Regions from separate parts of the Homo sapiens genome. Here regions 2 and 3 are each linked to region 1. The links come from fine-mapping of genetic effects on gene expression. A gene starts in region 1. Each other region holds a variant in brackets. All regions are shown on one strand. Distances are between the middles of the regions.

Region 1 (2,756 bases):
TTTCACCCATCATCTACTGACTTTCTTCTTATGCTTAACCTTCCGGTGACAAAGTGTCACGTAAAAGGAACTGAAGGAGTTCTGTCAGAGGTTGTGGCAATCCCTTCGGCTCAGACTAAGGAATAATTGGTAACTATTCTGTGATGGGTGTGGGGTAAAAGCCTATGGGGCTGTGGAGGGGCAACAGGTGGAGGCAGGAGGCCTTGGGGAAGGGAGCTTCACCTCTGTACAGTTCTCCAAAAAAAGATTCAAGTACCAGCCTTCTGGTATAGTTCAATTTTAAAGATGGGAAATTAAAAAGTCAACCTGAGATCCACAGCAGTAATTTTTTTCAAGAATCCATAGTGACACAGAAATTCCCAAATTGACTTTTTTTTTTTTTTGAGGCGGAGTCTCGCTCTGTTGGAGACTCCCGGGCTGGAGTGCAGTGGCGCGATCTCGGCTCACTGCAGTCTCCGCCTCCCGGGTTCAAGCGATCCGCCCGTCTCAGCGTTCCGAGTCGCCGGGATTACAGGTCCCAAATGGACTTATATGCCTCCTGATGTACTTCCTTCCACACGATTCCAACTATATCGTATCTAGTTTTTAAAAGTCAGGGGGCGGCCGGGCGCGGTGGCTCACGCCTGTAATCCCAGCACTTTGGGAGGCCGACGCGGGTGGATCACCTGAGGTCAGGAGTTCGAGACCAGCCTAGTGAAACCCCGTCTCTACAAAAAATACAAAAATTAGCCGGGCTTGGTGGCGTGCACCTGTAATCCCAGCTACTAGGGAGGCTGAGGCAGGAGAATCGCTTGAATCCAGGAGGCAGAGGTTGCAGTGAGCCGAGACCGCGCCACTGCACTCCAGCCCGGGAGTCTCCAACAGAGCGAGACTCCAACTAAAAAAAAAAGGGAATAGTAACAACTACTCTTAGCAGATCTTCAAGGTCCCAAGTAATGGCCCGCGGCGCTAGGCCGGGCCTGTGGCGGGAGAGCCTGGCCTAAGGTGTCCAGAGGAGCCCAGGCTGAGGGGTGTCTCTGTCAACCCGAGTCCCAGACTAGCAGTGTCCTTGGTGTCCACGACAACAGCAACGGCAGCCACCGCCGCAAACGCCCGCCTGGCCTGGCACGGCCCGGCCTCGCCTCACCTCAGCTCACCGGCGCCGCGCCTCCAGCTCCAGCCTCCGCGCGCCTCCCCGGCCGCACCTCTGCGCACGCGCAGCGCCCGCCCGCCCCACCCAGGCTCTCGCTCCGGTCCCGCCCCTCTGGAACCGGCGGCGGGCGCTTTTCCTCCCAGCGCGGCCACCGTCGTTCGGAAAGGGAGGGCGGCAGGGGGCGGGGAAAGGCCGGGAGGTGGGCGAGCGCGCGCGCCGCCCGTCTGTGGTGGTTTCCTGGCTGCGCGCGGCGGTGGCGGAGCCGCTACGGCTGTAGCAGCAGCCGCGAAGATGGCGGAAGGGCTGGAGCGTGTGCGGATCTCCGCGTCGGAGCTGCGCGGGATCCTGGCTACTCTGGCCCCGCAGGCCGGGAGCAGAGGTGAGTCGCGCCGCCCAGCTCCTGGGCCGGGCCTGCCCGCCCCGCCTCCCTCTCCTCCTCCTCTGCCTCCTCCCCGCTCGGCCCTCGGCTCCGGAGCCCCCGCCCCTTCCCCCAGCAGTAGGCGCTGGGGCCGCGGCGGACCCTCGCTGCCCTACCTCTCTCGCGGGTTAGTGCGGGGTCGGGCTCGGCCAGTCCTGGCCAGCTCCGGGAGAGCCTGGCCCGAATTCCTGCCTCCACCCTCTTTCTCGCCGCGAAGGTGACTGTTCCTTTTGCCCCAGCCCTCTCAGACCCGCCCCGGATTCCCAGGCATCGGGAGACGCGGAAAGGAGTGGGGTCTGGTGGAGGCCCCGGGCGTATCGCTCTCCAGGCCGCCCTCCGCGGGCCTGCCCCGGCCACCGCTTTAACGTCGGAGAGAAGGAATTGGGGAGAAAGGTTTAAGAGCCTGCGACTTCGTTGCTGAACTTTTCCCCCCCAAGACAGGCTTCCGAAAGCTGCGCCACTGGAGGGATCCGGGACCTCAGACTACTCGGGTTTGGCCCTGGCATGTGTGGGAGCAGTTTTTATTAGAGAGAATGCTCAATTTGCAAGTTAATTTCAAGTCTCCAGCCACGTCAGGAAAGTAAGAAAGATTCTAAGTGTCTCACCTCTCCTGCGTTAGGCAATAGAGTTGTGTAGAATGGTAGCTGTGATAGGTGCCTTCTCTAGGTTTGCGGCCAGTCTGTGAAATTGGTTTTTGTTGATTAACATAATTGGATTATTAAGGCTATTTTCTCCCGCTGCTCTAGAAAGTAGTAGGAATAGCTTTCCCCATCCCCCCGCCCCCCACCAAGTTACAGACTGCCGAGGGTGAGCTATTCTTGGGTTAAACTGCTTTATCTTTGTGGATACTTCATGAACCTACCTTTTAAACTTATGAAAATAGTGAAGCACTATCCAAAACCTCAGTCTCTTTTCTTCCCCTTTTCCTTACACCTACAAACAGTAAATGTACTTGCTGGAGCATATGATTCCTGTTTTGGGCTTGTTTCCATTTATATTTAGAGAGCAATACTAGGATTAAAAACTTTTTTATTGTTGTTATTATTATTTTTTGAGACGGAGTCTAGCTCTGTCGCCCAGGCTGGAGTGCAGTGGCGCGATCTCTGCTCACTGCAACCTCCGCCTCCCGGGTTCACGCCATTCTCCTACCTCAGCCTCCCCAGTAGCTTGGACTGTAGGCGTGTGCCACCACGCCTGGCTAATTTT
Region 2 (2,756 bases), 240 kb after region 1:
ATCAGAATGACATCAGCAATGGCTGGTGTAATCAAAGCCCATTTGTCAGTGTGAATTCTTAGCAGATTAACTTGTCAGATTCACAGAGAAACCGTCACTAAATGTTTATGTGTAAACGATGTTGAATTTTAAAATCATGTGGATTATGGCGGATGGGGCCTGACAAGATGACAGTCTCTGGTTTCTAACAAAGTGAAGTTACCAGTGTCAAAACAGAGGATGTTTATTGTGAAAAATGTCAAAGTATCCACAGAAACCCCTGCAGACCCCTGCCAGCAATGTCGGGCCTTGGTTAGCTGACCTAAGGCCTGGGACGCTCCTGGTTTGAGGCCCAGGGCAGGAATAGTGGGGCTGCTACAGACGCAGCCAGTCAGCTGGGAGCCCCACACAGCCCTGCATACCACCACCCCAGCCACACTTATCTGCAGAGGGGCCTGGCCCAGGCAGCTGAGTAGTCTCTGAGTATCCCCTCACCCGAGGCCACCTTCCTTTCCCCTCTGCCCACAGCCCCTTGCCTCCCTTCACACTCTCCTTCCTCCTGTCCTCTTCTCTCGCCACCACCAACCCCACAAACCTCTCCCTCCCGAATCCTCCAAACTCCTCCCCAGGCTGAAAGCCAGTTCTCAGCCTCCCTGCCTGGAGCTGGCAAGCCTGAGACTGCTCAGGTCCGACATGGATATTTGCAGCCCCCCACCCCCGCCAGCCCACGCAGTCAGTGAGCACAGCAGGACACTTCCTGTGCCTTGCTGTCTGCCGGACCTGGACCTCTGTCAGGAAATGCCCAGCCTGGGACTGACGAGTAGACCTGCCACCCAAGCAGGCCTGTCAGGGTAGGGATGTCACTTGTGTGAGTGCTTGTCCCTGGCTTAAATTCTCTCCAATGTGTTAAAGATTAGGGAGTTAGGGAAAGAGAGGTAGTGGAGAGACTGTGCTTAAAAAAAAAAAAAGTCATCTAAAAAGAATGAAAGATATCTGTGCCACTATAGCAAGACCTTTTAAGTATATACTCTGAAAGTGTGGCTAATATGATCATGATGCTGTAGGAAAAAAAGGTTATATGTCCAAGTGTATGTACTTGTAAATGTGCCTAAAGAAACCTGGAAGGATACACAGGTCTTCCCTGGGGTACAAGACGGAGAACTGGGATCATCATCTTAACTCTACTCTTCCTTTTTACTCTTCTGTCCTCTTAGAGACTTTCGCCTGTATACATGGATTACTGTTACTTAGCAGGGGCGACCGGTTGGCCAAAGCCTTGGTGTGCCCTTGGCACAATTCTGCCAAGACCCTTACCCTCTCCTCTCCTCAGGGCTCCCTTAACCCCTCTCCCCACATCTGGAAAACCCTGGATACATTTTCTGTTCCATCTTTAGTTTTCTGCCTCTGGATGCGTAAAGCTTCAACCTGCTGGCTTTTAGAGGGAGAGGACTTGTTAAAAAAAAAAAAGT[G/A]GGGTGTGGGGAGAGCGGTGTTGTGATCTGGGGGCCAGCCATGTGGTAAAAAGGAGTAGAGGTCAAGGGGCTGCTTCTATTCCCTCAGTTTAGGGTCCTGGGAGGCTGACGGGTTTGGGCAGCTTTTGGGAACTAGGCAGAAGAGAGTCCTGTATGGGAGGCCGGAGTCAAGGCAGAAGCCCAGTGCAGCCCTCTCTAGGCCAGCAGGGGAGGGTCCCCGGGGCTGAGAGCCCGGACGGAGGAAAGGACTGGTAGAAGAGCCAAGACACGGCTAGCGTGGCACCCCCTCCCCAGGACCACATTCTCCAGGGTGAGAAGAGCAGCCAGCCCTCTGCCTCCTGTCCTCAGTGACAGCCTTCTGCTCTCTCATGCCCACAGAGGAGCCAATCCGGCTACTGCGGGAGGTGGTGCTGTTGACGGATGACCGGAACCTGCGTGTGAAGGCGCTCACAAGGAATGTTCCTGTACGGGACATCCCAGCCTTCCTCACGTGGGCCCAGGTGGGCTGAGGGAGCCACACTGGGGCCCCCCCCCCGTGGAACCGTTCCTGAAAGGCCACCAGGCGCCCAGTGTAGCACGGAAGATGCCCACGTGCCTGAGCCACCAATCCACCCAGACAATAAACCATCCTCTTCCAACCCACGCCACGGCCATGCTGTGGGGGACCTGCTCCTCACAGAGCCCCTCCCAAGGATCGGGCGGAAGCTGCTGGGACCCTCCTGGGCTGCCAGGATTTAGCAGGGAGGTGGCTGGCTACAGCAACAGCAGCTGGGCAAGCCAGATAGGCCGCCCATGCTCTCAGCCTTTCTCCCTCCCCCGTCTCATTCCAAGGCTGAGGGAGGGCCTTCTCGCCTGGGGACGCAGCCACTTTCTCCAGTGGAGACAGGGCAGGGGTTCTGAGTTTCCGTCAGATGCAGTGAAATCACAGTTCCCTTTCATCTTCAGAACCTCTGTCGTGAATGTGTTCAAGAGGCTTTGGTTAAGTCAGGAAGAAGTGCCCAGGGTGTGTGTCCCCAGTCTCCCTGAGGCCTGGACTCGCCCATGAACCCAAGTCGGCTTCTAGACAGCATGTCCCTAACAGCAGCCCTGGGCCCCCACCTCTTCTACCATCCACCCCAGACTTACCACACACCCTTCCTGCTGCTCCTCTTCCTGCCCTTATCAACCTGGGTCCCTCACACTTCGCCAGTTGCGTCCCCGTGGACAGTCATGAGTCTAGAGGAAAGGGGCATCTGGTCTCAGGCCCGTGCTCTCGGGTGGCCTCCACCTGCTCCCTCTCTCCTCACTGGCCTTTCTTTCCGTCTAGCT
Region 3 (2,756 bases), 81 kb after region 1:
CGTACTACCAGAGGAAGCTGGGATTTCCTTGTTCCATCAGACTTACTCAGACTTTCTTTCTTTTCTTTTCTTTTTTTTTGCTCTGCCTGTGATGCCCATGAGCAGTGTGACTGGGCACCTACATCCAGGGTGGCAAGGGCATGTAGTTTGCTCTTCCAAAGATTAGTTTCTTTTCCAGCTCCTGCCCATTTACAGCTCAGTCTTATGGCAAATGGTGTCATTGGGCTCACATTTTTTCATTTTTCCAAGAGGTGTCCAGTGTATAGAATATCACTTAGAGGGCTAATTGGGTGGGGAAGAAAGATCAAAGGAGTGGAGAGGAAAGGCTGCAGCTGAAGTGATAGGAGCCATTTATTGACAAAAAGATGTGAGTTAGAGATTTGGAAAAGAGTACTCTGTTGTTTCAGCTACATCACATTATATATCTGGTGAACCTTGCTGGCCCATGAAATCCTTTCCATTAGTCAGGGTTCTCTGTGCTTTTGTTCTTGACTACTGCTGTTCTTAGTGCTATTCGGTTTGCTTGTATGTCTCAGTTTCCTTTTCAGAAGGCAGATTGTCGTCTATTTAGGAATGCATTTACTGTAATTGGAGTGTTCTGGCTTGTTTAGTCCCCTCTTCAAATATAAGACTCATATCTTGAAGCTTATGTTCAGAAAATATGCGCGTGTGATCCCTTTGCCCCAAGTGCCAACAGCAGATGTAGCAGTTGACACGCTGCAGGGAATTTCCAACTGCTGGGCAGGTTTCTGAAATCCGGACACGTGCTGTTCACACTTTGGCTTCTGAGGCAAGGATCAGTGGTTGAAAGAGGGGAGGAGCTGGCAGGGGACTGCAGGGAGAAAGATCTTATAATGCCTGCCCAGGGCTTTAGGCTGTGTCAGCTTTCTGCATCTCTTCTCCAGCTGGAGCTGGCAGGGTCGAATAAATCACTGCAGAGTAGTTATGAGCCCAGCTCACCAGGGACTTCTTTGAGGCACACCTGTGACGTCATCCTGTTATCACTGTCTGTTCCACATAACCTCTTTTCACCTCTCCCCTGAGAGAGGGTGATGCCCAGAACTCATGTCAGGGCAATGAGCAGAGGAAAATGTTTCGTAAGTATTATTTTTCAGATGCCTGCTAGGGATACAGTTGTAGGCCATTGACACATTCTTCAATATTCCTCATTGGAAGAGAAAACCTGTGTTTGCAAACATGGCCTGAATACCCCTTGTGGATAAAACTTCTTTTTAAACTTGGAAAGAAAGTCTTGAAACTCCTAAGTGGTCTCTTTTTGTACCCCTTACCTC[T/C]CTCGTTCCTTCCCAAACATGCACACACAGACACATTACATACAGAGTCTGCTGTGTTCAAAATCCTTCACTGACTTCCCATTTCACTCAGTGTAAAAGCCACATTATTTACAAGGCCTTCATATATGGACCTCTTCTCCTGCCCCCCCCCCCCCCCCCCGCCCCCGCATTGCCTCTCTCTGAGCTCATTCACGACTGTTCTCCCCATGGCTTGGTTACTCTGCTTCAGCCACACTACCCTTCTTGCAAGTTCTCTGCTAAGCTGGGGACTCTCCCACCTTTGGCCCTTCGCATTAGCTGTTTTCTCTGTTTGGAATGTTCTGCATCCAGCCATCTGTCTGGTGAATACCTCGCCTCCTATAAGTCTTTGCTTAATGTTACTTCTGTGAGACCTGCCCCAACCATCCTATTTAACACTGCTGCATTCTACTCCAAACCTGCACTCTTTATCTTCCAATTCTATTGATTTATTTTCTAAATACTAGATAATTAATGTGTATATGTTTATTATTTATTTTCCTCTACTATTCTGCAAGAATGTAAGCTCCCTGCTTATAGGGGTCTCTGGTCTGTTTTATCCACTGATACATTGTGAACATCTAAAACAGTCCCTGACCTGTTGTAACTTCTCAGTAAACATGCGTTATATCAAGTTCAAGTCAAAGAATAATTTGAGGCCAGGTGCCGTGGCCGACGTCTGTAATCCCAGCTCTTTGGGAGGCCAGTGCAGGTGGATCACTTGAGCTCAGGAATTCAAGACCAGCCTGGCCAACATGGCGAAACCCTGTCTTTACTAAAAAATACAAAAATTAGCCAGGCATGGTAGTAATCCCAGCTACTTGGGAGGCTGAGGCAGGAGACTGGCGTTAACCCGGGAGGTGGAGCTTGCAGTGAGCCGAGATCACCCCATTGCACTCCAGCCTGGGCAACATTGCAAGACTCCGTCTCAAAAAAAAGAATAATCTGTCAGCAGGTCAGCCTGGACAATGAAGATTGAATGGCAAGGGCAGGGGCATCTGTTAACTAGGTTACTGCTCATAATCTTACTGTCTTTCCTTGTTTTTTGTTAAGGTGACTTTCTTGAAAGCATAATTTCCAAATGCATATTTTACATCTGGCATTAAAGTAAAATCCATTAAATGTGCTTTGGTATCTACTGTTGTATTAATCCTTTCTCATACTGCCATAAAGACATACCTGAGGCTGGGTAATTTATAAAGAAAAGAAGTTTAATTGGCTCATAGTTCCACAGGCTGTACAGGAAACATGGCTAGGGAGGCCTCAGGAGAATCACAATCATGGTGGAAGGCAAAGAGGAAGGAGGCACGTCTTCCATGGCTGGAGCAGGAGGAAGAGAGTGAAGGGGGAGGGGCTACAGACTTTAAAACAACCAGATGTCCCGAGAGCTCCATCAGGAGATAGCACCAGGAGGATGGTGCTAAACCATCAGAAACCACCCCAGGA

Direction of the effects. Positions count from the first base shown, and alleles are read on the strand shown. Sizes are in standard deviations (SD) of each study's normalised expression. Not every link is listed here.
For the expression in monocytes after LPS of the gene that starts at base 1,359 in region 1, allele G in region 2 goes with a lower level than allele A (large effect, 1.8 SD a copy in Quach 2016).

The links. PIP is the estimated chance that this variant, and not a neighbour inherited with it, causes the effect. A credible set is the group of variants that fine-mapping cannot tell apart.
Region 2: its variant is the best candidate, but not a certain one, in a credible set for the expression of SMG6 in monocytes after LPS (Quach 2016, PIP 0.84).
Region 3: its variant is the best candidate, but not a certain one, in a credible set for the expression of SMG6 in whole blood (TOPMed, PIP 0.52).

Annotation. Positions count from the first base shown.
Region 1 is chr17:2,302,388-2,305,143 of GRCh38, reverse strand. It overlaps SMG6 (SMG6 nonsense mediated mRNA decay factor), which reads left to right and starts at 1,359. Exons shown (of 19, transcript NM_017575.5): 1 at 1,359-1,511. The coding sequence starts at 1,424. SRR (serine racemase) reads right to left here and starts at 1,194. Exons shown (of 8, transcript NM_021947.3): 1 at 1,127-1,194. RefSeq lists silencers at 1,110-1,329, 1,520-1,729 and enhancers at 1,231-1,957, 2,287-2,756.
Region 2 is chr17:2,060,693-2,063,448 of GRCh38, reverse strand. It overlaps HIC1 (HIC ZBTB transcriptional repressor 1), which reads right to left. Exons shown (of 2, transcript NM_006497.4): 2 at 208-2,756. SMG6 (SMG6 nonsense mediated mRNA decay factor) reads left to right here. Exons shown (of 19, transcript NM_017575.5): 19 at 1,827-2,756. The coding sequence ends at 1,957. Among named protein-coding and RNA genes, the nearest start is that of HIC1, 7.0 kb to the right of the region's middle. The variant G/A (reference allele first, on the strand shown) is at 1,449.
Region 3 is chr17:2,221,246-2,224,001 of GRCh38, reverse strand. The region is part of intron 10 of SMG6 (SMG6 nonsense mediated mRNA decay factor); the gene reads left to right. Among named protein-coding and RNA genes, the nearest start is that of SMG6, 81 kb to the left of the region's middle. The variant T/C (reference allele first, on the strand shown) is at 1,293.